4 linked regions of the Homo sapiens genome follow. The protein of the gene in region 1 purifies or fractionates together with the protein of each later gene. This does not show direct contact. Each region holds a gene or a part of one and is shown on either strand. Other genes may lie near its edges.

Region 1 (8,376 bases):
TTCCTCATTTTGAAAGGGACAAGATAAGATGATTTCCAAAATTCCTGCAAGCTTGAAAATTCTAATACTATTTGTAGTCAGTGTTCTTGAGGTTCATCTCAGTACCCAATTTTTACAGTAAAAATTATTTTGCCTGGTTTTACCAAAGTCAGCTATTCGTAATGGAAGTCAGAGAATTAATATATAATTTTAAAATATAGAAAATTTTCAAACTGACATCTTTTTCAAAGCATTTTTTTTACCAGACAGCAAAATTGCAAACTATATGAACACAAATTGAACTTTCCTTCCTTTTCACAGTTTACTCATACAAGTAATATTAAAAAATCCTAAAGTCAAAAGGAAGAGTAGCAAGAAAAAGAAGAGATACAGAACCTACTATTATGTAGGCTGAATTCACTGAATGAATAAGCCAATGAAGAGATGGATAGAAATAAGAAAAACTTGAGTTGGCCATTTACCTCAATGAGTAATGCAACCATCTTTTTCCCATCAGCTCCTGGGTTGGCAGGTTTGTTAAATTCCAAATCAAAATAAAGCTTGCACACAGCATTTTCAGGAATAACTTCATAGCAGTGTAAGAGATTTTTTCTAAATTGAATAATTCAAGATTGTTAAATTGATATATTATACCTTTATTGATTGATTGATTGACTGACTGAGACTGAGTCAGCTCTGTTGCCCAGGCTGGACTGCAGTGGTGTGATCTCGGTTCACTGCAACCTCCTCCTCCTGGGTTCAAGCGATTCTCCTGCCTCAGCCTCCCGAGTAGCTGGGACTACAGGCACACGCCACCACGCCTGGTTAATTTTTGCATTTTTAGTAGACAGGGTTTACGCCATGTTGGCCAGGCTGATCTTGAACTCCTGGCTTCAAGTGATCCACCTGCCTCAGCCTCCCAAAGTGCTGGGATTACAGACATGAGCCACCACGCCCAGCCTCTATCTTATACCTTTTAAATCATGGCAGTCTATCTTACATTGCAAGTACTGTGTTAACTGTGCTTTCACTACATACAAGTATGAAATAAGAACATGATAAAATGAACTGTTCACCATAGGTTTATGGCTCATCTTATCAAGGGTTTCCATCAAGCAAAATGCAACAATTATATCCTGTAACATTATTTAACTAGAAAATACAGTCAATCTTACAGTGTTATTTATTCACAGATGAGTTTGATATTGTGTAATACCTCTATATTTGTTTTTAGTGTCACCATGAAACAAATTTTCTTTGAAAAAAAATGTTCTTTTCAGGATTCCATATTCTTGGGATTCCATGAATTTTCCATGAGAATTTTTAAATTCTGTATTTTCATTGGAAGATAATATTTTAAAAATTGCTTAAAAAATTCTGAATCACCTGACTTTGATAAGCTCCCAACGCTCATGTTTGCAGTTACATTCTTTCTGGCATTAAGAGGAATGACTTTGACATGGGTTAAATAGGGAGAGATGCTGACTTAATTTGCAAATGATAATTTGGGCTAAGTGATATTCAGATGGCATCCTATACAAATTAAGGACTTCTAGTAATTTGAAGAGGGAAAAGTTATGTGAAAATTGTATCATCAGGTGGTACAGGTAGTGGAGGAACTCAACACACACATACACATACATACATACACACCCTGTAGCAGTCAGTTCCATATTTACATGGGAAGATGAGACTGAGTTTCAGCAAAACATCTGTCACATTGTCTTAATGATTTTCATTCAACTCTAACTGGTGTTGCATGTATATCAACATAAATAAATCCAGTTTCATATTTGAAGCTACTTAGCAACATTTGAATAAAAGTATTCTAAATCAATATAGGGCATGCTAACAATTTACTCTCCTTTTCCACACATTACTCAAGTCTGAGAAATACTTGAATACGGCTGGGTGCGGTGGCTCATGCTGGTAATCCCAGCACTTTGGGAGGCCGAGGCAGGCAGATCATCTGAGGTCAGGAGCTCGAGAGCAGCCTGACCAATATAATGAAATCCCGTCTCTACTAAAAATACAAAAATTAGCCAGGCGTGGTGGCAGGCACCTGTAATCCCAGCTACTTGGGAGACTGAGACAGGAGAATTGCTTGAACTCAGGGAGGTTGCAGTGAGCTGAGATTGTGCCACTGTACTCCAGCCTGGGCAACAAGAGTGAAACTGTCTCAAAAAAAATTTTTTAAATTAAAAAAAAGAAAGAAAAAAAAAAAGAAATACTTGAATAGATCACTCAGTCAAAATAAAGCTAATAAGCCAGGTACAGTGGCTCACACCTGTAATCCCAACACTTTGGGAGGCCGAGGTGGGTGGATTACCTGAGGTCAGGAGTTCAAGATCAGCCTGGTCAACATGGTGAAACCCCGTCTCTACTAAAAACATAAAAATGAGCCAGGCATGGTGGTGGGCACCTGTAATCCCAGCAACTCGGGAGCCTGAGGCAGAACAACGACTTGCACTCGGGAGGCAGAGGCTGCAGTGAGCCGAGACCATGGCACTGCAGACCAGTCTGGGCAACAAGAGTAAAACTCCATCTCAAAAAAATTAAAAAATTAAAACTAAAGCTAATAACAAATAATTTAAAATAGTAATAATAAAGTCAAGATAAAGCAGATATTTCATTACTAGGTAAGTAACATAAATATTCCTTTGTGATTAATAGTATAATTTAATACCTGTTTGCAAAAGAGAAATTTCAAAACTCCCTTTGAGTACACGCATATATTCGTGTATGTGCATGATTATTTTCTCCCAGCACCTGGTGAGATACTCAAGCATTGCTATGACAAGAAAACTCCAGAATTCAATTCTAAGAGCAACTAATAGTGTGGTCACGAACTGTGGAAGCCAATTCAGCCTGAACTAATTTCACCAAAATTCCTAGGCAAAGGAAATGGAACTCTAGCTTAATGTGTGGTTCTGCTGCATGCTACCTACCTGGATTTATAGTAAAACCAAAATTCAGCATAGGTTGTCACAAGGTAAATACGTTGTCCATCTCCTACTTTGCATTCCAAAGCAAATACATGAACGTCCTGCATAAAATCAAAAAAGAATTCAGAAAAATTCACAAAATGCAAACCTAAACTCAACTGTAGCTACTGAATGTTCATAAAGAATTTTTCATTCAAGTTTTCAGAAACTGTAATTTGAACATTTGTATTATTAAAAACAAGACAAATAGTCACTAGGTTTATGCCATTCAAAATCTAATTATACCTATTTTTTAATCATTCATACAAAAGGTGAAAACAATTAGAATATGCAGACCAAAGAGAAAAAAGGAGAGAAACCACTCTTAAAAATATTACTTGTATGACTTCCTATGATAGTTTTATTTCTTAGTTTATGAAATTAAACTTATTTTTCAAAACTACTTATTATTATAAATGATTTGGGCTAAAATTGATTAGTAAATTCCCCAGTACATAAAAAAATGTATGTAGGAGCCTTTTTTTTTTTTTTTTGAAACAGAGTCTTGCTCTGTTGCCCAGGCCGGAGTGCAGTGGCGTGATCTCGACTCACTGCAACCTCTGTCTCCCAGGTTTAAGCGATTCTCCTGCCTCAGCCTCCCAAGTAGCTGGGATTACAGGTGCCCACCACCACGCCCGATTAATTTTTTGTATTTTTAGTAGAGACGAGGTTTCACCATGCTGGGCAGGCTGGTCTCGAACTCCTGACCTCAAAGTGATCTGCCTGCCTCAGCCTCCTAAAGTGCTGGGATTACAGGCATGAGCCACCGCACCCAGCCGGAACCATTTTTTTAAAGGTTAATTACTGCGGTAGTTGTTTAAATATAACTGCTCATGCCTCCTGCCATAAGGGTTCTTCTAATAGAGGAATACATCCACAAGTTCTTTTGTTTCCTCTTAGCTAAAGGTAGCTGGTGAGCATATTTTTCTTTTCATGAGTGAAAAATCACAGGACTCAGTTGCTTAACCCTAACAAAAACCTTTTTGAAATAAATTTTATAGACTGGTGATTAGCAAGTCCAACAAGCATACCCCTATCTATATCTTTTTAAAATTCAAGTTCAAATGAATCTGTCAGTATTTTAATTTCTGCTGCTTGAATTAGGTTTACCCAAAATGCCTAAGAAAGGTATTTCTTAAACCATTCTCATGAGATTTGAGTAAGCCTACCCTTACTAGAGAAAGAGAGGTCCTTCTAAAACTTCCAGCACTTGGAGATTTTATACAGCAACAGTGATCAGACTCACAGCACACTTATGCTATCATATAAGCATCTTATCGTTTCTTTCATATTTCTTTACATTCCCCACAGTGCCCCAAAAAAAAAAAAGAATGTGCAATACACATCTGTTGCTTGATTTAGTGATATTTATTTATTTATTTATTTATTTATTTATTTATTTATTTTTGAGATGGAGTTTCGCTCTTGTTGCCCAGGCTGGAGTGCAATGGCGCGATCTCGGCTCACAGCAAACTCCGCCTTCCGGGTTCAAGCCATTCTCCTGCCTCAGCCTTGGGAGTAGCTGGGATTACAGGCATACGCCACCACACCCGGCTAATTTTGTATTTATAGTAGAGACAGGGTTTCTCCATGTTGGTGAGGCTGGTCTCAAACTCCGGACCTCAGGTGATCCACCCGTCTCGGCCTCCCAAAGTGCTGGGATTACAGGCATGAGCCACCTCGCCCGGCCAGTGATTTTTATTTTTCAGCACCATGTTCTTTGAAAGGCTGACACTTCTTTCTCCTACTTGCTTACTGTGTTGAAATAAATATGGTTCCCCTCCCTCTAAGCATAAAGCTTCATTTAAATATCATCACAATTTTTAAAAACTAATTGGTACTAGATGTGTCATTCTTTTTCATTACTAATATAAATTAAATGGTTAATGATTCACAGGAATATTTTTCCTAAATCACATGCCATTAAGATTGCCATTAAATTTTCTTGGTAGAATACATGGCCTGAAATGAAGACAAATAATAGACTTTTTTTTTTAAAGAACTGAAATTATAATGAAGAAGAAGAAGAAAGAAGAGGAAGTGGAAGAGGAGGAAGAAGAAGAGGAGGAGGAGGAAATTACTTCTTTACAGCTTTTAACAAAATTAAAAGCTTGAGCTTGTCGATGAAATAGTCTCCAGATGGAGGGTGGTTCTTCTGGCTTGGACAATCTTGGTCTATACACTGAGGACAACGGTTTCCTCTCATAATGAGATGCTCGTTCTTCAATTTGCTTCAGTTTTGCTTCCCATTTTCTATTCATTGGTTCAGAAGTGTGGAGAGAATAAATCCTATCCCACGTAATATTTCTATCAATTACTACTAAAACAAACAACAAACAAAAAGGCCATTAATTTCTTTGTTTAGAATATATTTTGTTTGATAAAGTTTCAAAACTCACTTCCTGACACTTATTTTCTTGTTTATTCTTTGCATGAAGTTTTACCACAGAATGAGAGCAAGGCTGGTTATCAGAAATTCTTAGATCCTGGTTCTTCATCTAATGGTATTATGACCTTGGACAGGTTAATGAAGCGCCCTGAATCTTAGTTTAATCAACTGAAAAATGGGAATCAATATCATCTTGAGTACTTTATATACTTAGCTTGAAGATAAATGTGGTAAGACATAAGCAATCTCTAAATTACAAAGCCTCATGTAAATATATGTGCTTTTTGTATCACTGTGGTTTTTACTATAACCATTTTATTGTATCACGTGCTATGACCTTGTCCACCCATTCTTGTGCTATTATTTCTCAGTGTAGAATTCATTTCTAGATACCAATGTACAGCTCTTAGTTCCCTTTTCCTCTGTTTCTGTCCATGTCTCCTCTTCTCTCTCAACACAACTTTTAGTTGGGCTAGTTTTGGATGTCTGTAGTAATGGATGATTTTTCTTTCTATATAATACTTCCATGTCAACCACGCCAGAGTAAGGGGGCCAGGCAATAATTTTCCAATTTGGGATTATAATTCATTTACAAAAGAAAAAGAATAGGTTTTTAGAAGAGTGGGAAAACTTTCACTCTAGATTAAAAACAGCCAAATCAGCCACAAACCCCTTGCCATTTTTCCCATCAAGAGATGGCACCTAAACTCACTCTCGTACTGACTCTCAGCTTGGCCATATGACTTGTTTTGGGCCAACATCACATTGACAAAAGTGAAGCAAGCAGAGGTTTAACGAGTGCCTTTGCAGCAGACTTGGTTATCCCAGAGTCCTGCCCTGAGATTGCCATGCCATAACTCTAGCCTCATAGAGGATGAAAGCCCACATGGAAAAGAACCAAGGAATTGCAGCCAACAGCCAGCATAAGCAGTCTGATATGTGAGCTGGGCCATTCCGGACATCCAGCCGTCATCTGAATTCAACGCATTAGTAAGCCTGAGTCCCAGAGAGACCTATCAAACTGCCCAGCCAACCCACAGAGCTATAAGAAAAAAATAAATTTGGTTGTTTTGTCTTTTTTAAGCCAGTAAGTTTGGGGCTGGCTTTGACATAGAAATAGGTAATTAATAGAGTTCCTCTCTTCATTAATATCATCTCTGCCATAATTTACCTATGTGGAAAACAGATATATTGGGGCTTTTTTGAAGTGAAATAATATGTACTAAATCATTTAACAGTGAAGTCCTATTTCTTTGGTAACACATTTGTGCTTATTGAGTTGATAAACATTGTCTTGAATTTTAGCAGAAAACTTTGCAGCAACACAAACTCATTGGCAAATGAGTATTTCCTGGAAGGAAAACCAGAATCTCCCTAAAAGATTAAGAAAGGGGGCCAGGCGCGGTGGCTCCTGCCTGTATTCCCAGCACTTTGGGACGCTGAGGCGGGTGGATCATGAGGTCATGAGTTCGAGACCAGCCTGACCAAGATGGTGAAACCCCGTCTCTACTAAAAATACAAAAATTAGCTGGGCATGGTGGTGGGCACCTATAATCCCAACTACTCGGGAGGCTGAGGCAAGAGAATAGTTTGAACCAGGAGTGGAGGTGCCAGTGAGCCGAGATCGCACCACTGCACTCCAGCCTGGGTGACAGGGCAAGACTCCATCTCAAAAAAAAAAAAAAAAAGATTACGAGAGGGTAGACCAGGCGCCGTGGTTCATGCCTGTAATCCCAGCACTTTGGGAGGCAGAGGAGGGCGGATTACCTGAGGTCAGGAGTTCGAGACCAGCCTGACCAATATGGTGAAACCCCGTCTCTACTAAAAATACAAAAATTAGCCAGGCGTGGTGGCGGGCACCTGTAATCCCAAATACTTGGGAGGCTGAGACAGGAAAATTGCTTGAACCCAGGAGGCAGAGATTGCAGTGAGCTGAAATTATGACACTGCACTCTAGCCTCCTGAGTAGCTGGGACTACTCCATCTCAAAAGAAAAGAAAAAAAAAAGGGATAGTACATCATGACCTTGTTAGAAAAAAAACAAAGGCATATTATCCGCAGATTTCAAATTTGACATCAATCGTAACAGACCTAAGAAAGATATTCTCTCAGAGTTATACCTAATCCACATATAAAGTATATACTAGGAAACAGAAATATAATTCTAAAGGTACTAACATAAATTTCATAACAGGTATGCTTAGGGAAAATATCAATTCACTGGATGGAGGAGATGAAGCAATTTTTTTAAAAACTGCTTCAGCCGGGCGCGGTGGCTCACGCTTGTAATCCCAGCACTTTCGGAGGCCAAGGCAGGCGGATCACAAGGTCAGGAGATCGAGACCATCCTGGCTAACACAGTGAAACCCTGTCTCTACTAAAAATACAAAACAAATTAGCTGGGCGTGGTGGTGGGTGCCTGTAGTCCCAGCTACTCAGGAGGCTGAGGCAGGAGAATGGCGTGAACCCGGGAGGCAGAGCTTGCAGTGAGCCAAGATCGTGCCACTGCACTCTAGCCTGGGCAACGGAGCGAGACTCTGTCTCAAAAAAAAAAAAAAACTGCTTTAACTTGTCAATACAAAGTGATATGGCTCCTTATTGCTAGATTCTGAGTATTCAGTTACTTTGATCTGCTTCACGTGCAGCTAAAAATCTGCTATACTTAGATAAACCTAATTGAGAAACTGACTTTCTATCATGAAGTTTATTAACTTTTAACAAAGTCCATTGATTATTAGTGAAGAAAATAAATACAGAATGCAATCACATCTGAATCTAGCTAGTATCTACCAATAACTGACTACAAATGACTATGTGGATATTCGTACTTCGTGACACTGAAATTTTATCATGAAAAATTGTTTGATTTTGTAAAAGTCTTGGTAGGACCACGGGAGTATGTCATACAGGAACATCATGGAGTCACAATGAAAAAACAGCTTAAGACTCACTGAACTGGGGAAACCATGAGCATCAACAGAAGAAGAAAGAGAAGTTCAGTATATGTCATGCCCCCTTCATATC
Region 2 (4,081 bases), on another chromosome or scaffold:
AGAGGCAGACGGACCATGAGGTCAGGAGTTCGAGACCAGCCTGGCCAACACAGTGAAACCCCGTCTCTACTAAAAATATAAAAAAAATTTAGCCAGGTGTTGTGGCACGCACCTGTAGTCCCAGCTACTCAGGAGGCTGAGGCTTTCCTCCCTTTCTGGGCACTCCTCCTGGATTTTCTTTGCAGGTTTATCTTCTACCCCGGCCATTAAGTATCCAAGACTCCATCCTAGGGCTTCTTCATTCATTTATGCACAGAGCTTTAATAAGTACTGATTTATAGATGACTCCCTGATTTTTATCTCTACCCTAGGCCTTGACTCTGCGATCCAGATCACTACTTCCCATTTTACACTTCCTAAACGCCTGAAAGGCACCTGTAACTCAGCAGGTACAAAACCAAACTTCTAAATTTTCCTAACTCATTAAATGACATCTATCCAGCTATGCAATTCAGAAACCTACAAGTCATCTTTAGCAATTCCTTCCCCTATCCCACAGATCCTGCCCATCTTATTTCCTAAATATCCCTTGAATCTGTCTATTTCTCCTTATCTCTATAACCACTTCCCAACATTTCTTGCTTGCATTACTCCACTACTCTCATCCACTCGTCTCCTTCAATTGTCCCTATTACATCTAGACTGAATCTGAAAATATAAAGCTGATCACCTCACTTGGATTAAGTATTTCAATGGTTTCTGATTGCTCTTAAGATAAAGACAAAACTTCAAGGCCCTGTGTGATCCAGCCTCTTACTACCTCACCAGTCTCACTTCACACTACTCTATGCTTTTTCTTTCCTTGAAAGAGCTATATCCCTCAGGCCACTGGCTCTTTACAAATACTATTTCCTGTCTTGAAAAAGCTATTCCTTGACTCCTAATATCTTCCAGATCTCAACTATCACCTTTTCAAAAGTTTACCTCAATTTCTCTAAATCCTTCTTTAGTAAGCATTCATAGTGTCAAGTACAAGTGTCATGGCACTTATCCAGTTTCAATATCAGGTTTTATTTATACAGTTATTTATTGTTCGTCTCCCAAACTAGACTGTAGCTCAAAAAGGGCAACGAGGTTAAGTCTCTCTGTGTTACACAGCTGGAACCCCAATGCTGTTACACAGCAAGTGCTCAATATATATCTTTTTTTTTTTTTTTTTTTTTTGAGAAGGAGTCTCGGGCTCTGTCACCCAGGCTGGAGTGCAGTGGCGCGATCTCTGCTCACTGCAAGCTCCGCCTCCCGGGTTCTCGCCATTCTCCTGCCTCAGCCTCCCGAATAGCTGGGACTACAGGCGCCTGCCACCACGCCCGGCTAATTTTTTGTATTTTTCATAGAGACGGTGTTTCACCGTGTTAGCCAGGATGGTCTCGATCTCCTGACCTCGTGATCCGCCCGCCTCGGCCTCCTAAAATGCTGGGATTACAGGCGTGAGCCATCGCGCCCGGCCCCAGGTGCTCAATATATATTTGATGAATGATGGAATGCAAAAAAAAATTCCAGTTTCCCCAAATTGGAGTTAGACGATCTTTAAAATCTCACTAATTCTAAATTTCGGTTACCATAAATATAAAAGCAAAGCATCGGCTGGGCGCGGTGGCTCACGCCGGTAATCCCAGCACTATGGGAGGCAGAGGCGGACGGATCATGAGGTCAGGAGTTCGAGACCAGCCTGGCCAACACAGTGAAACCCCATCTCTACTAAAAATACAAAAAAAATTAGCGGGGCGTGGTGGCACACGCCTGTAGTCCCAGCTACTCGGGAGGCTGAGGCAGGAGAATCATTTGAACCCAGGAGGCGGAGCTTGCAGTGAGCCGAGACCGCGCCACTGCACTCCAGCCTGAGCGAAAGAGCGAGACTCCGTTTCAAAACAAAAACAAAGCATCAATTCCTGATCATGACCCACTGTAACTTCAAGCAAGCTACAAGAATCTATACTAGGGTTCAGACCTTTGAGGCTGACAGCGAGCTTTGAGTTTGATGACAGTACCTAAAATATATTAAGTGTACTCAGGAACTGGCCAAGCATGGGGTGGGGCTTGTCAGGAAACTGGTATTTCTTTCTTCTATTTGTAGTGAATAAGATGCTCAATAGACGACTTTTACTCCTCGTCAATGGTCGCATAACTGTCTCTTTTTAGACACTTATGAAATTGTCTGAACTTCCTCCTCTACTTCTCCAACTCCCAGAAGAGTGAAGGTAACAAATGTTATGTCCAAACCACGGTTTGTTCCCAGACCCTGGTTTCCAATGCCCACCTCTTTTCCAAGAAGTCCAAAGAGACGCCCCTCATCGCAAAGGAAGTGCTACCGTGCTGCCTCGATGTCCCCCTTGGGTGCCATCCCTGAAACATCGAACCTCCCATACCTCTTCTCCAGCCGTCCCCCTCATCCTCGTTCCCCGCCTACCCTCTCTTCAACTTCATTCATTCATCCAACATTCGCTGGGGGATTTCTACATTGACACGCCCCGGACAGAAGCCTGGGGTAAAGATGATCAGGAACACGTTCCCTCCCGCTAAGCGGCTTGGCAGAGTAAGAGGCATCCCAAAACCTAAGCAACCGGGACACGCGCCCACCTCCCCGCCTCTCCAGGCCGGGTCAGGTCGACCCCCCAACCTCCTGACCCCCTTCCTGCGACAATTAGGCTTTCCCGCTAGTCTGTCTGGCTCCCTGGCTCTTCCATCTGGCTCCCTGGCTAGTCCGACTCCCCTCTCCCCGCAAGAACTTCATTGGCCCGCCAGCCAGCTCTCACCTCACGCAGAAAACACGGGACACAGCGCGGACCTCGGCGTGCAGACTAAGCGCGCTTCTCGCGATACTCGGGAACTCCTGGGGCGAGAAGGGCCCGCAGCGTTTGGCGCCAAATCCGTGCGGGGGGCTGGGCGGAGCCTGCAAAACCCGCCTCTCAGGTTCCGCCCAGCACGCCGGTCCCGCCTTCGGTCCCACAATTTCCGCCCTACTGAATTCTTCAGAGGAACTCAGTTAAGCCTCCTTATTTGCATAAAGTTAATACTTGTTATTCTGGGGTTTTTCTTTTTTTTTTTTCTTGAGACTAAGTCTCGCTCTATCACTCAGGCTGGAGAGCAGTGATTCGATCTCGGCTGACTACAGTCTCTACCTCCCGGGCTGAAACGATCCTCCCACCTCAGCCTCCCTTCCCCGACTAACACCACCACACCGAATTTTTGTTTTAATGGGTTTTTGTTTGTTTGTTTGTTTGTTTTGCAAAGACGGGGATTAGTTGCCCAGGCTGGTGTCGAACTCCTTAGCTCAAGCGATCTTCCCACCTCAGCTTCCCAAAGTGCTGGGATTACAGGCGTGAGCCACTGTGCCCGGCACTTTAAACCTTGGAAATAGGTCTCGGTTTTTGGAAAACTGAGTTGTGGGAGGAGGAAAAAGGACAGAGGCAAGCAATAGTGAATAAGAAATTACCGCTTCTTCAGAGTTCATAGCAGAATGCTTCGAACTCAGAGTTTTATGAATTGTTTATTGAATAATAAGCTGAGAAAAGAGGTGGTAAAGAGAGGAAAAATAGGGCTGAACATAGACACTGGCCAGGTGCGGTGTGGCTCGCCTGTAATCCCAGCACTTTGGGAGGCCCAGGCAGGCGAATGGCTTGAGCCCAGAAGTTGAAGGCGGCAGTGACTAGGATCGCACTGCTGGCGATCCAGCTGGAGATCCAGTCTGGGTGACAGTGAGATCTTGTCGCAAAAAAAAAAAAAAAAAAAAAAAAAAAAGCGAGAGAGTGTGAATGTAAACAAAAAAAAATGTCAAAAATATGTTACTTGGGGCCGGGTGCAGTGGCTCACGCCTGTAATCCCAGCACTTTGGGAGGCCGAGGCGGGCAGATCACGAGGTCAGGAATTCGAGACCAGCCTAGCCAACGTGGTGAAACCCCATCTCTACTAAAAATACAAAAATTAGCCGGGCGTGGTGGCGCGCACCTGTAATTCCAGCTACTTAGGAGGCTGAGGCAGGAGTATCACTTGAACCTGGGAGGCAGAGGTTGCAGTGAGCTGAGATCATGCCATTGCACTCCGGCCTGGGCGACGGAGCAAGACTCTGTCTCAAAAAAAAAAA
Region 3 (6,248 bases), on another chromosome or scaffold:
AGAGCAAGACCTTGTCTCAAATAATAGTAATAATAATAGAAGGGCAGAGGAGGCAGCCAAGAGAGTTTTCAGGATGCTAGTTCTTCTGCCTGGGGTGGTCTAGAGACAACTTGTCAAATTCCTTGCCTTTCCTCTTCCCAGGACTGTAATAGATACAATGCAACATGCAGTCTACGTCTATGACATTTGTCATGTGATCATCGACAACCTGCAGTTCATGATGGGTCACGAGCAGCTGTCCACAGACAGGTGACGGTGACATCCTCTCTTGTCTAGCTTGAGCCCGCTTGGACATACAACACACACTTCTCAGGCAGCTGGCCTCTAGGCACACATGCTGTGCTCTCCTATTTTCTGAGATGTGTGCAGGCACGTACCACCCCCATGTGTATCATATGGAGGTGTGGGGTATGGCAGCAGGATGTATGGACAGGGATCTGAGTGTGAGTCCTTGGGTAGAGGGAGGTAGAGTGGGTTGTGGTAGTTTGTGGGGAGATGTGAATGGATCAAGAGTATGTGTATGTTCTTGTCCTTCTGTGTCTGATAAGCTCTTTGTGTTGTTGGGATGGCGTAGGATCGCAGCTCAAGACTACATCATCGGGGTCTTTCGGAAGTTTGCAACAGACAATAACTGCCATGTGACACTGGTCATTCACCCCCGGAAAGAGGATGATGACAAGGAACTGCAGACAGCGTCCATTTTTGGCTCAGCCAAAGTGAGTGGCCTTTAGCGGAGCTCAAGCTTTGGAAAATAGAGTGGGTAGGTGTGACCAGGGACAGCCCTCATTCAGCCTTAATCGTCTTGACTGTCCATCCGAACAGGCAGGAGGCAATGCCTCTGGGGCCATGACATGAGGAATATATGTGCTGGAAATACAAAGGCTGATAGTTGGTTCTTATGCTCTTCTTGTCCCCCAGGAGCTCACATCCTCTCCTGGGGAAACAGTAAGACAGTGATTGCAATTCAGTATGATAAGAGTATGATAGGCAGCACAAGTATTTGGAGAGCAAAGAGAAAAGATGTCTGAGTCAGCCCGGGACATCTGGGAGACTTCCAGAGGAGGTGACAACAAAGGTTGGGTTGAGGTTTGGTAGACAATGGGTATTAGACAATCAGATAAATGTGAGGGCCTTCTGGGCATCAGGACCAGCCCAATCCTGGAGCTTCTAGTGTTACACTGAATGCCTATTACATACGAGGCCTGGGCTGGGCCTAGGGAATTCAGAGCAAGGAGCACAAATCATGTGCCATGATGGAACAAACATGGAGCTGGGAAAGAGAGTAATGCAGAAGTGGAAAAATGGCAGGGTACAGTGGATCACACCTGTAATCTCAACACTTTGGGAGGCTGAGGCAGGAGGATTGCTGGGGCCCAGGAGTTTGGCAATCTGAGCAATGTAGTGAGACCCTGTCTCTACAAAAATATTTGAAAATTGGCCAGGCGTGGTGGCTCACGCTTATAATCCCAGCACTTTGGGAGGCCAAGGCGGGTGGATCACGAGGTCAGGAGATCGAGACTATCTTGCTAACATGGTGAAACCCTGTCTCTACTAAAAATACAAAAAAAAAAAAAAATTAGCCGGGCGTGGTGGCAGGCACCTGTAGTCCCAGCTACTTGGGAGGCTGAGGCAGAATGGCGTGAACCCGGGAGGCGGAGCTTGCAGTGAGCGGAGATCGCGCCACTGCACTCCATCCTGGGTGACAGAGTGAGACTCCGTCTCAAAAAATATATATATATAATATATATATATTTAAAAATTAGCTGGGCATGGTAGCATGCACCTTTGGTCCCAGCTACTCAGGAGGCTGAGGTGGGAGGATTGCTTGAGCCTGGGAGGTTGAGACTGCAGTGAGCCGTGCTCACACCACTGCACTCCACTCCAACCTGGGCAGCAGAGTGAGACCCTATCTTTTTTTTTTTTTTTTTTTTTTTTTTGAGACGGAGTCTCGCTTTGTCACCCAGGCTGGAGTGCAGTGGCGCGATCTCGGCTCACTGCAAGCTCCACCTCCCAGGTTCAAGTGATTCTCCTGCCTCAGCCTCCCAAGTAGCTGGGACTACAGGCATGTGCCACCACACCCGCCTAATTTTTTGTATTTTTTTAGTAGATACGGAGTTTCACCGTGTTAGCCAGGATGGTCTCAATCTCCTGACCTCATGATCCGTCCGCCTCGGCCTCCCAAAGTGCTGGGATTACAGGCGTGAGCCACCGTGCCCAGCTGAGACCCTGTCTTTAAAAAAAAAAAAAAAAAAAAAAAAAGAATGGTCTCCTTCATGAGATGTGACATTTAGACTGAGACCTAAAAGAGAAGAAGCTGAGGTTGAGTGGGGTGGCCCGCTGTGGAGAAGGAGAGGGAACAGCACAGGCAGCGTCTGAAACAGTAGCAAGCTTGTCAGGGAACTGAAAGATTTGAGTGGCCCCAGCATCGTGGTCAGTAGTTCAAAGAGCTTTGGTCATGGGGGGAAGTACTTTTCCCTCTCCCATTCTTTCTCTTTTTTTTTTTCTTTTTTGAGACGGAGTCTCGCTCTGTTGCCCAGGCTGGAGTGCAGTGGCACAATCTTGGCTCACTGCAACCTCCGCCTCCCGGATTCAAGCGATTCTCCTGCCTCAGCCTCCCAAGAAGCTGGGACTATAGGTGCATGCCACCATGCCCAGCTAATTTTTTGTATTTTTAGTAGAGATGGGGTTTCACCGTGTTAGCCAGGATGGTCTTGATTTCCTGACATCGTGATCCACTCGACTCGGCCTCCCAAAGTTCTGGGATTACAGGCGTGAGCCATTGTACCCAGCCCCTCTCCCCATTCTTATCACTCCTCCCTGCCCTGTCAGCCCCCCTTTCTGCTTTGCTCATGTCCTCTTACTCCTGCTTTCCTCCTTCTGCCCCCTGTTCCCCAGGCAAGCCAGGAAGCAGACAATGTTCTGATCCTGCAGGACAGGAAGCTGGTAACCGGGCCAGGGAAACGGTATCTGCAGGTGTCCAAGAACCGCTTTGATGGAGATGTAGGTGTCTTCCCGCTTGAGTTCAACAAGAACTCCCTCACCTTCTCCATTCCACCAAAGAACAAGGCCCGGCTCAAGAAGATCAAGGATGACACTGGACCAGTGGCCAAAAAGCCCTCTTCTGGCAAAAAGGGGGCTACGACACAGAACTCTGAGATTTGCTCAGGCCAGGCCCCCACTCCCGACCAGCCAGACACCTCCAAGCGTTCAAAGTGAAGGCCGTGCAGAGCTGGTCACTGAAATGAGCCTGATAGGATAGGCTGGAGCATAAAACTCTGCAAGGGCTCCTCTATCCTGTGGTCCTGAGCTGTGTGCCCTTCTCAGTCTGAGGGGCCTAACCTAGAGCAGGTTTCCATAGTGAGAAAATTCAATGTAGCAGACTACTGAGAAACTACTGTGTTGCTCAGGCTTTGTTTGAGGTCCTGTATATACAGCACTGAAAAGAGAGATAAAGTCCCTGCCTGCATGCATTCTGGCGGAAGAGACAAGCAAGCAATGAACAAATTAGCAGAAAACCTAGTTTTAGTGAAAAATGCTGTAAAGAAAATAGAAATGCGATAGAGTGCTGGCAGGCTAGTGTAGATAAGTGGTCTGAAAAGGTGTCTCTGAGCCGAGGGCATGTGAGCTGGGGCCTAAACAACTAGAAGGAGAGAGCCACGTGAACATCCGGCGAAGGGGACCCAGGCAGAGAGAAAAGGAAATCCAAGCCCTGAGGTAGGAATGAGCAGGTCAGATTCAAGGCAGTGAGGTCAGGCCGCATGAACCTGGAGGGGAATCGGGGACTTCATGCGAAACTCCAGCCTAGGCTTTCAAAGTCAAAGGGTGATACAGTGGGTACCAAGCTCCTCTGCTCCCCACTTTGTAGAGCCTAGCATGAGGTGGCATGTACTAGAATTGGATCCTAGGTGCTTAGCCCTGCAATATCAGGGCCTCACTGGTGGGAGCTGCCTCGGGCTGGGTTGCTTGGTCATAGAGCCATAGAAGGAAGCTGTCAGCCCGGAGTGCCTGCCACCTAGACACTGATGCCATTGTGTGCTGCCTCAAGACTGCTGGAGTCAGGACATTTTATAGAGCCTTTTCCAGTTTTACTAAAAAATTTTTCCATTGCCTTTGTTTCTGTGCTTTTTCTTATTCATCCACCAGGTGTCTCCCCAGTCCGTAGCTGAATTTCCCTTTCGGGATTGGGAATGGACGGGTCCCCTCCCACTGCTTGCAGCCTTTGAGCGGTGGGCTTCCAAGGAAGCAGGGACATTAAAGGGCCTTCACACCCCACCTTCCATTTACATCTCTTCTTGGCCTAGGGAAGACAAGATGATCTGTCCTCATACCTAACTTCCCTGAGGATCTCGAGTGATTCCTGGCACAGGTACTCATCACTGGGCCACATGAGCCCAGTGCCCTGCCTGACTGGCCATTCCTCTGTGATGTGAGCCACTCACCTCTCAAGTGGACTTAGACTCAACATATTCTGTCCACCCCCATCCATCTCCCTCCTGTACCCTCTCCGTGTTTCTCATATGCTAATGCGTGCCAGAACTCCTGGGGACTTGTGAAAAATGCAGAAACTAGGCCCCATTCTCCCCCCATCCTCCACCACGTACATTTCTCATTCTGGATTTGAGGACGGGTACAGTAATCCTCATTTTTAACAAGCCGTGGAGGAGACTGTAAAATAGGTGACCCAGAGGGACTGTCAGAAGTATTCCTAAATGATGACACCTTCTCATCTCTCGTCCTCTGATATCCCAAAGTCCCAGTTTCCCTTTGGATTTGCCTGAAAGAGTCGTGAGAATGCAATATGTTCTGAGGGGGCTGGGGAGAATCCTTTTGTAAGGGTTGGGGGAAGGTTTCCTGCTCCGTTTGGAAGCAGGGCTGCCTTGTCAGGCTCTTCCTTTCAACCTATGAAGGGGCTTCTGGGGCCGATGGAGGGGTCTGTGGTCTCTGGAGTGTGAGAACTCTGGTCACAAATGTCTCCTGAAACATCCGGAGCAAGGCTGCTGGAAAGCTGCTCTCTGTGAGGAAGAACCTGGGGGGGTGGGGAGAGCTCCTCCAGGGCCTCCCTTCTTGGGGGTCTCTCCCAGACTGGCTGGAGCCAGGCCTCCCTAATCCCGCAGTAATCATTCCCAGCCGTTGGCTGGTCTAGGCCTCATCCAGAGTCTGTAACGCTGAACGGCAGCCATGCCTTCCAGAGGCACAATACCATATCAGTCATACCTGTAAGGATGTGGGTTCCACATTCCTGTCTCCCTAGAATGCCTGGTGGGTTCTCAGGAGATCTTTTAGGGGTTTCCAGTAGGGGACCTTTGTGAGGTCTCTGTGAACTGGGGATAGAGGGATAGATACAGACTTGGCTGTTTGTCTTGCCCCACCCTTCTAGCAGACACCCCCACACAGCACAAACCAGAATGATGAGGGGGAGGGGAAGCTAATACTCCCCCCAGCCCTACCCGCTGCACAAACACGTTCTATTCCATACCTGCCTTAAATACCCCATATCATGATTCCACCCAGTCTGTTCAGATCCCTGGATTCTAGAAAGCAGTGGGGGGTCCCTAGGGCCTGTGCGGATTCCCTGGGATAGGACTGGTCTGTCTACACCCAACTGGATGTTAAGAATCTCCCTGACTCACAGGTTCGGTGGATTGGGAGGAAAAAAAAAAAATTTCCCTGAGATCTCAGGAAAGGCCTGGCTAAGCCAGGTCCAGTTGGATCTACAGCCTTGTCCTCTAATTGATAATGTATGTCACACTTGGCCATGAGGGGACAGCTTTGGTCCTCTGGCAGCTTCCTCTCTGCTGTGGATGGGTTTAAGAAGAAACAACTCGGCCGGGTGCGGTGGCTTACGCCTGTAATCCCAGCACTTTTGGAGGCCGAGGCGGGTGGATCACGAGGTCAGGAGTTTGAGACCAGCCTGGCCAATATGGTGAAACCCCGTCTCTACTAAAAATACAAAAATTAGCCGGGCGTGGTGGTGCGCGCCTCTAGTCCCAGCTGCTCTGGAGGCTGAGGCAGGAGAATCGCTTGAACCTGGGAAGCGGAAGTTGCAATGAGCCAAGATCGTGCCGCTGCATTCTGGGCGACAGAGCGAGACTCCGTCTCAAAAAACAACTCACCGAGGTCTCCTGTAGCCCATATGGGCCAGATACCTGTAGACCTTCCTACATGCTGCCTTGAGTGCCATGGTGGGAGGGAGCCCTTGGGGCCTCCCTGCAATACAGGCCAACTTCCTGTTTGTGCCTGTGGGTGGG
Region 4 (5,028 bases), on another chromosome or scaffold:
AGAACAGTATGGTGAAAGATCCATCAATGCCAAAAAAAAAAAAAAAAAAAAAAAGGTATAATATGCATTGCCTATTATACCTATTCAGGGAAATTTCCATACAGTAAGGGCTTTTTTCATTGTTATGTATGCTGTATTTTTGGAGTCTTTTATCTCAAAACAAAACAAAACAAAAAACAAAAGGTGGCTACTTTTCTTCATTATTATATATTCATTATAAAGTAATGAAAACAAAACTAAAAATACCTGTTTCTGCCATTTCGTGTAATGTTATCATTGAATAGGGAGGTTCCTGATCACTGGAAAAAAAAATTCAAGGCATTAAACCTGAGGAAATAATAAATGACAATTCCAAATAAGAATTCAAACTGGAGGTGTGGAGGTAAAAAGGGACAGAAGAAATGAACACAAATGTAAGGAAAGAGATAGAAGAGACAACCTGAGCTATGACCTGTAAGGATGAATGTATACCATATGTGCTCATTTCCAGTCACTGTCCACAATGACCCACAGACAAAATGGGCAGGTGGATACAGACAAAGACTACTATGTGTCCTGGGGTAAAAGCACAGGAGTAAAACTGGAGATCACAGCCTACTCTCAGCTTTACACTCAGAGGCCCAGTGCCAACTGAGACAAGCCAGGAAGGTCAACATCACCTTCATACTTACCTCAGAGAAATGCCAGGAAGAGAGACGACAATCCCGGTTGAGGACTTATGGAAGCAAGGGCCTATATACGCATCTTCATTTTGAAGTTTTCTTCTGGAAATACCACTACATGCTTAGACTTCATAAAATGGTATTACAAGAAACAAAACCAAACTTAAGGAACTACTTAACATTCTAGACATTGCTCCAAAGTGGCATTATACACCTTAATTCAGTGGTGTGATCCCAGAAATCTTTAAAAAGTCCTTCAGGGGAACTTCAATAATGAGATGTTTTCCATTAAACAATTCTAACTGCTTAAGAACTCACCACTTATTTGTTTACATATTGTGGGTCTCTGTTTTAGTGTGGAAAAAAAAAAAGCCCCAAAAACTATCATCTTAAGTCATTTAATCCAGAGAATAACCTTGTGATATGGGAATTAGTATGGTCATTTCAGGTACTCATTAGGTGCTGCCTGTTTAAACAATATAATTGACTGATGCAAGTATTTCTGAAGAATGATCTGGCAATAATAAAATTAAGTATGCATATACCCAACAGTTGTAGATAAATTTTTACACAGGTCCAAAAATCAATGCATATTTGCGCTGTTCACTGCAGTGCTGTTTGTAAGAACAAAAATTTGGCAGTAACCTAAGTGACCATCACCAGATGAAAATGTAACAAAATATAATACTTTCAGGCATACAAGGGAATACTCTGTAATAGTCAGAAGCAGTTGTAGATTTATATACAGTAACACAGATTTCGATGTTGAGAAAAGTTAAAAACAAAGAGGTTTGTATAACTATGTCACTCTCTTTTAAAATATTGCAAGGGGCCAAGCGTGGGGGCTCACATCTGCAATCCCAGCACTTAAGGAGGCTGAAGCTCGACAATCGCTTGAGTCCAGGTATTTGAGACCAGCCTGGGCAACATGGCAAGACCTGGCTCTACAAAAACTTTTTTAAAAATTAGCCAGGTGCAGTAGCACACGCCTGTAGTCCAAGCTACTTAGGAGGCTGAGGTGGGAGGATGGTTTGAGTCCAGGAGGCTGAGGCTGCAGTGAGTCATGATCACGCCACTGTACGCCAGCCTGGGTGACAAAGTGAGACCCTGTCTCTTTAAAAACAAAACAAAACAAAAAAACTCTCTCTCTCAAAGTCTATTCTGCACCCATTTTTCCAATGAGCTTAAATTAACATTGTTTGTGGTTTACTTCCTTATTTGGGAAGGATAACTTTTATTACAATTTGGTACAAGGGATTTAAAAAATTTTTTTTGATTAATTAATTTTTGAGACAGGGTCTTGCTCTATTGCCCAGGCTGGAGTGCAGTGGTGTGATCATAGCTCACTGCAGCTGGAAACTCCTGGACTCTAGCAGTACTCCGGTCTTAGAATCCTGAGTAGCTGGGATCACAGGCAAGTGCCACTGTACCTGGATAATTTTTAAATTTTTTTTGCAGAGATGGGATCTCCCTATGTTGCCTAGGCTGGTCTTGAACTCCTGGCCTCCAGCTATCTTTCTACCTCAGCCTCTCAAAAGTGTTGGAATTACAGGTATGAGCCATTGTGTCTGGCCAAAAAATTATTCTTCTCGAAGACTAACAAATGCTCCAGTATTTTATGGAAAAGTTTAATACAGCTCTAAAAATTCGTTTGTATTCACAGGTACACTCTGTTTTATGCTTAATTTTTGAGGAACTAAACGAAACTGGGTTTCTATAAATGCGATTATCAAATGTTTATATACTTAAATTTACTAGCAGGGCCTGAAGCAAAAAGAACACATAAGTAACTTTTTAAAAAATACTACCATCTACTGAGCAACTGTTAAGTACAAAGCTCCACACTGAATGCCTTATGTACATTATCTCATGATAATCCTTGTGGGAACAATATTATCCCCCCATTTACAGATGAGGAATCTGAGGCTTCAAGAAGTAACTTACCCAATGTCATGCAGTTAGTAAGGCACTGGGCCAGAACTTGAGCTAGGCCCATCATGGTTCTAAGCTTTGTGCTCTTAACTACTGAAATATACAACCTTAAGTTAAATGTTTTTTTCTACTTGGATGCCCTTTAATTTCACTGTTATTCAATCTATGATTTTGTATTTAGAGGTAGACAAAGCAGAGGAAAAGACAAAACAGGTACAGGTGTGCCTTGCAGTATCAACTGACAAGCTTCCTAAATGGATTAAAGATAGTCAAATAAGGGATAAAGGATCAAATAAAGGATAATGAAAACTCTCCTTGACCTTAGTCCTTATGTTGCCAAGAGAAGTTGCCTGTAGCCATGTTCTTGGTAAAACAACTTACCTTGAATCTGAGGTCAGTGGAATAGACAGGCATGTACCATTAACAGTGAGCCTTCATGAAACCATTTCCTATTGTAGCTAGCAACATAAACTCACTCCATATTTACTCTATTCTCTAATAAAGATCATAGCTTTATCGTGTTTTCTGCTACAGAAACATTTAGACATTTCCAGACAAAGTAGATGACAGCAAGCAAAAACATCAAATCTTATCATTTACTCTGCCATCAGCGGAGCATTAAAATATTCTCCTTTGCCCTGTGAGCACAAGGCTTGGCGAGTATGTCCTAAAGGAACTGAAGGAGTCCTAAAGTCATGGTTCCGGGCAGAACACTTTTCATTCCACTGGAGGTGACCGTGAGTCAGATACTTACTTATCTACAAGAGTCCGTATTACTGCCAGTGTGTCCAACACTAGCCCATCCACATTTTGTTTCTTTCTCCTTGGCTCATGAGGTCCTCGGCCCCTCCTTGGTGGCCGAACAGGGTCCCGTGGTTGGCTCCTTGTGTCAGCAGTGGGTACTGCACTGTTCTCGGCCTGTTGCTGTTGGGTGTCAACACTGTCATCTGTTCCACTGTCATCTCGGCAGATACAGGAATTACCCATGGTAGTAGCGGCACCTCCAGTCCCTAGGAAGTGGGCTATGTGCTCTTCGAGAGTCAACAACAGACCCTGGCCAAGGCTTCTGCTCGCTAAGAACACGGCCCAACCAAAGACGATCATTTAGGTAGTTTTCAGTTTTCCAAGTACTGTTTTCATAACCTGGAGTTGAGGAATTTGCATCCTATTTGTTTTTAACAACTGAATGCCAAAGAAAGTTGCAGAGCTTATTCCCAACATTATCAACTACAGGGGATTCTGGACATCCAATGGCAGTTCTAAAAGAAAATGAGAAAAAGGAAAATGAATAAAAGATTCTTGACCACTTAATTACTCAAATTTTCCTAGTCTGATTTTATAGATATTAGGATTCTAATGAAGAATTATCTTTGGTTATTTTTATAGGTTTCCAATACAAAGAGATAGCTTTGGATAACAGAATTCGCAATCAATCAATAATTTCTTTTTATCATTCTGTTACAAAGTTGATTGCCAAACCATATTCTTATAGACCAGAGGAGTTATCATTGATTTTTTTAAAACCACATGTATAGTTTTTCCTGTCTATATAGAAATACATTAGAAGGATGTGTGCATTTTTTTTCAAGGGCTCCTTTTATCATAAAAAAAGAGTTGTCTTTCTGTGTAAGAGGTAGGTGTTAAAAAGAGAAAAATCTTTAAAAAAATGAATTAACTCCTTTCTTTAAACCCATAGGATAATTTAACAAGTTTTAAATAAAATAATTACAGACGTTTGTTGTTAAAAAAAAGTTATGATACAAATATGATAGCACCATTTGATATCAAGGAGAATAAAAGGATAGAGTTTCCCATTGGAAGCTCACTCAAGAACTGACAGAATTCATACAAGTTGTTGCAAAGTGTTTCTGTTATGTAAGCAAGGCTTTGTTTTGGGAAAGGAAAACTGATATCACAAAAGTTGTATTTTCACAATGATCAGTTTGTTGCACATGTCTATTACAAAGTTCAGAATAAGATGCACCAATTTATCTTTGCCTGAAAATACTGACTAAGGACCTTGTGCCAGGTACCACGCTGGACTAGGAGAATAAAGATGAGTAAGGAATAGTTCCTGCCCTCCAGGAATTCATGGATGGCCATTCTCATCCCACAAAGTATGTTTATCATTAAAAACCTAATGAAAGAACCAGCTCTTCAAGAAGCTGGTAAAATCTGGTTAGATTCTGGAAGGAAGTAAAGATTTAGAAATAGGAGACTTACATGGGCTGGTAGCAAAAAGTAAAAAAACAAACAAACAAACAAAACAGGCTGACAGCTGGAGAACAGGCCACATAAGGAATAGACTATGCTAGTGTGTAGTCTCTACACAACATCTGGCTAGTTACAATTAATTCCTCATACCTTGAGCACTGACCAGGAATAATATAAACAAAATTTATAATTCAGTGGAATTAGAAGAGAAATATTACTC

The links.
Region 2: the proteins of PRIMPOL (region 1) and TIPIN purify together in Homo sapiens (affinity purification with mass spectrometry; one large-scale study listed by BioGRID and IntAct). This does not show direct contact.
Region 3: the proteins of PRIMPOL (region 1) and TWNK purify together in Homo sapiens (affinity purification with mass spectrometry; 2 studies listed by BioGRID and IntAct, with this or other methods). This does not show direct contact.
Region 4: the proteins of PRIMPOL (region 1) and RSPRY1 purify together in Homo sapiens (affinity purification with mass spectrometry; one large-scale study listed by BioGRID and IntAct). This does not show direct contact.

Annotation. Positions count from the first base shown.
Region 1 is NC_000004.12:184,653,989-184,662,364, reverse strand, and holds part of PRIMPOL (DNA-directed primase/polymerase protein), read right to left. Parts: intron 5,284-8,376; 5' UTR 5,225-5,283; coding exon 5,045-5,224; intron 3,026-5,044; coding exon 2,928-3,025; intron 592-2,927; coding exon 462-591; intron 1-461. UniProt on the Homo sapiens protein: DNA primase and DNA polymerase required to tolerate replication-stalling lesions by bypassing them.
Region 2 is NC_000015.10:66,353,886-66,357,966, forward strand, and holds the start of TIPIN (TIMELESS-interacting protein), read right to left. Parts: upstream 2,801-4,081; 5' UTR 2,754-2,800; exon of another isoform or gene 2,258-2,753; intron 237-2,257; exon of another isoform or gene 113-236; intron 1-112.
Region 3 is NC_000010.11:100,990,295-100,996,542, forward strand, and holds the end of TWNK (twinkle mtDNA helicase), read left to right. Parts: intron 1-141; coding exon 142-249; exon of another isoform or gene 250-369; intron 370-574; coding exon 575-716; coding exon of another isoform or gene 717-731; exon of another isoform or gene 732-760; intron 761-2,895; coding exon 2,896-3,216; 3' UTR 3,217-4,109; downstream 4,110-6,248.
Region 4 is NC_000016.10:57,203,329-57,208,356, reverse strand, and holds part of RSPRY1 (RING finger and SPRY domain-containing protein 1 isoform 1 precursor), read right to left. Parts: intron 3,854-5,028; 5' UTR 3,699-3,853; coding exon 3,349-3,698; coding exon of another isoform or gene 3,345-3,348; exon of another isoform or gene 2,976-3,344; intron 765-2,975; coding exon of another isoform or gene 672-764; intron 300-671; coding exon 247-299; intron 1-246.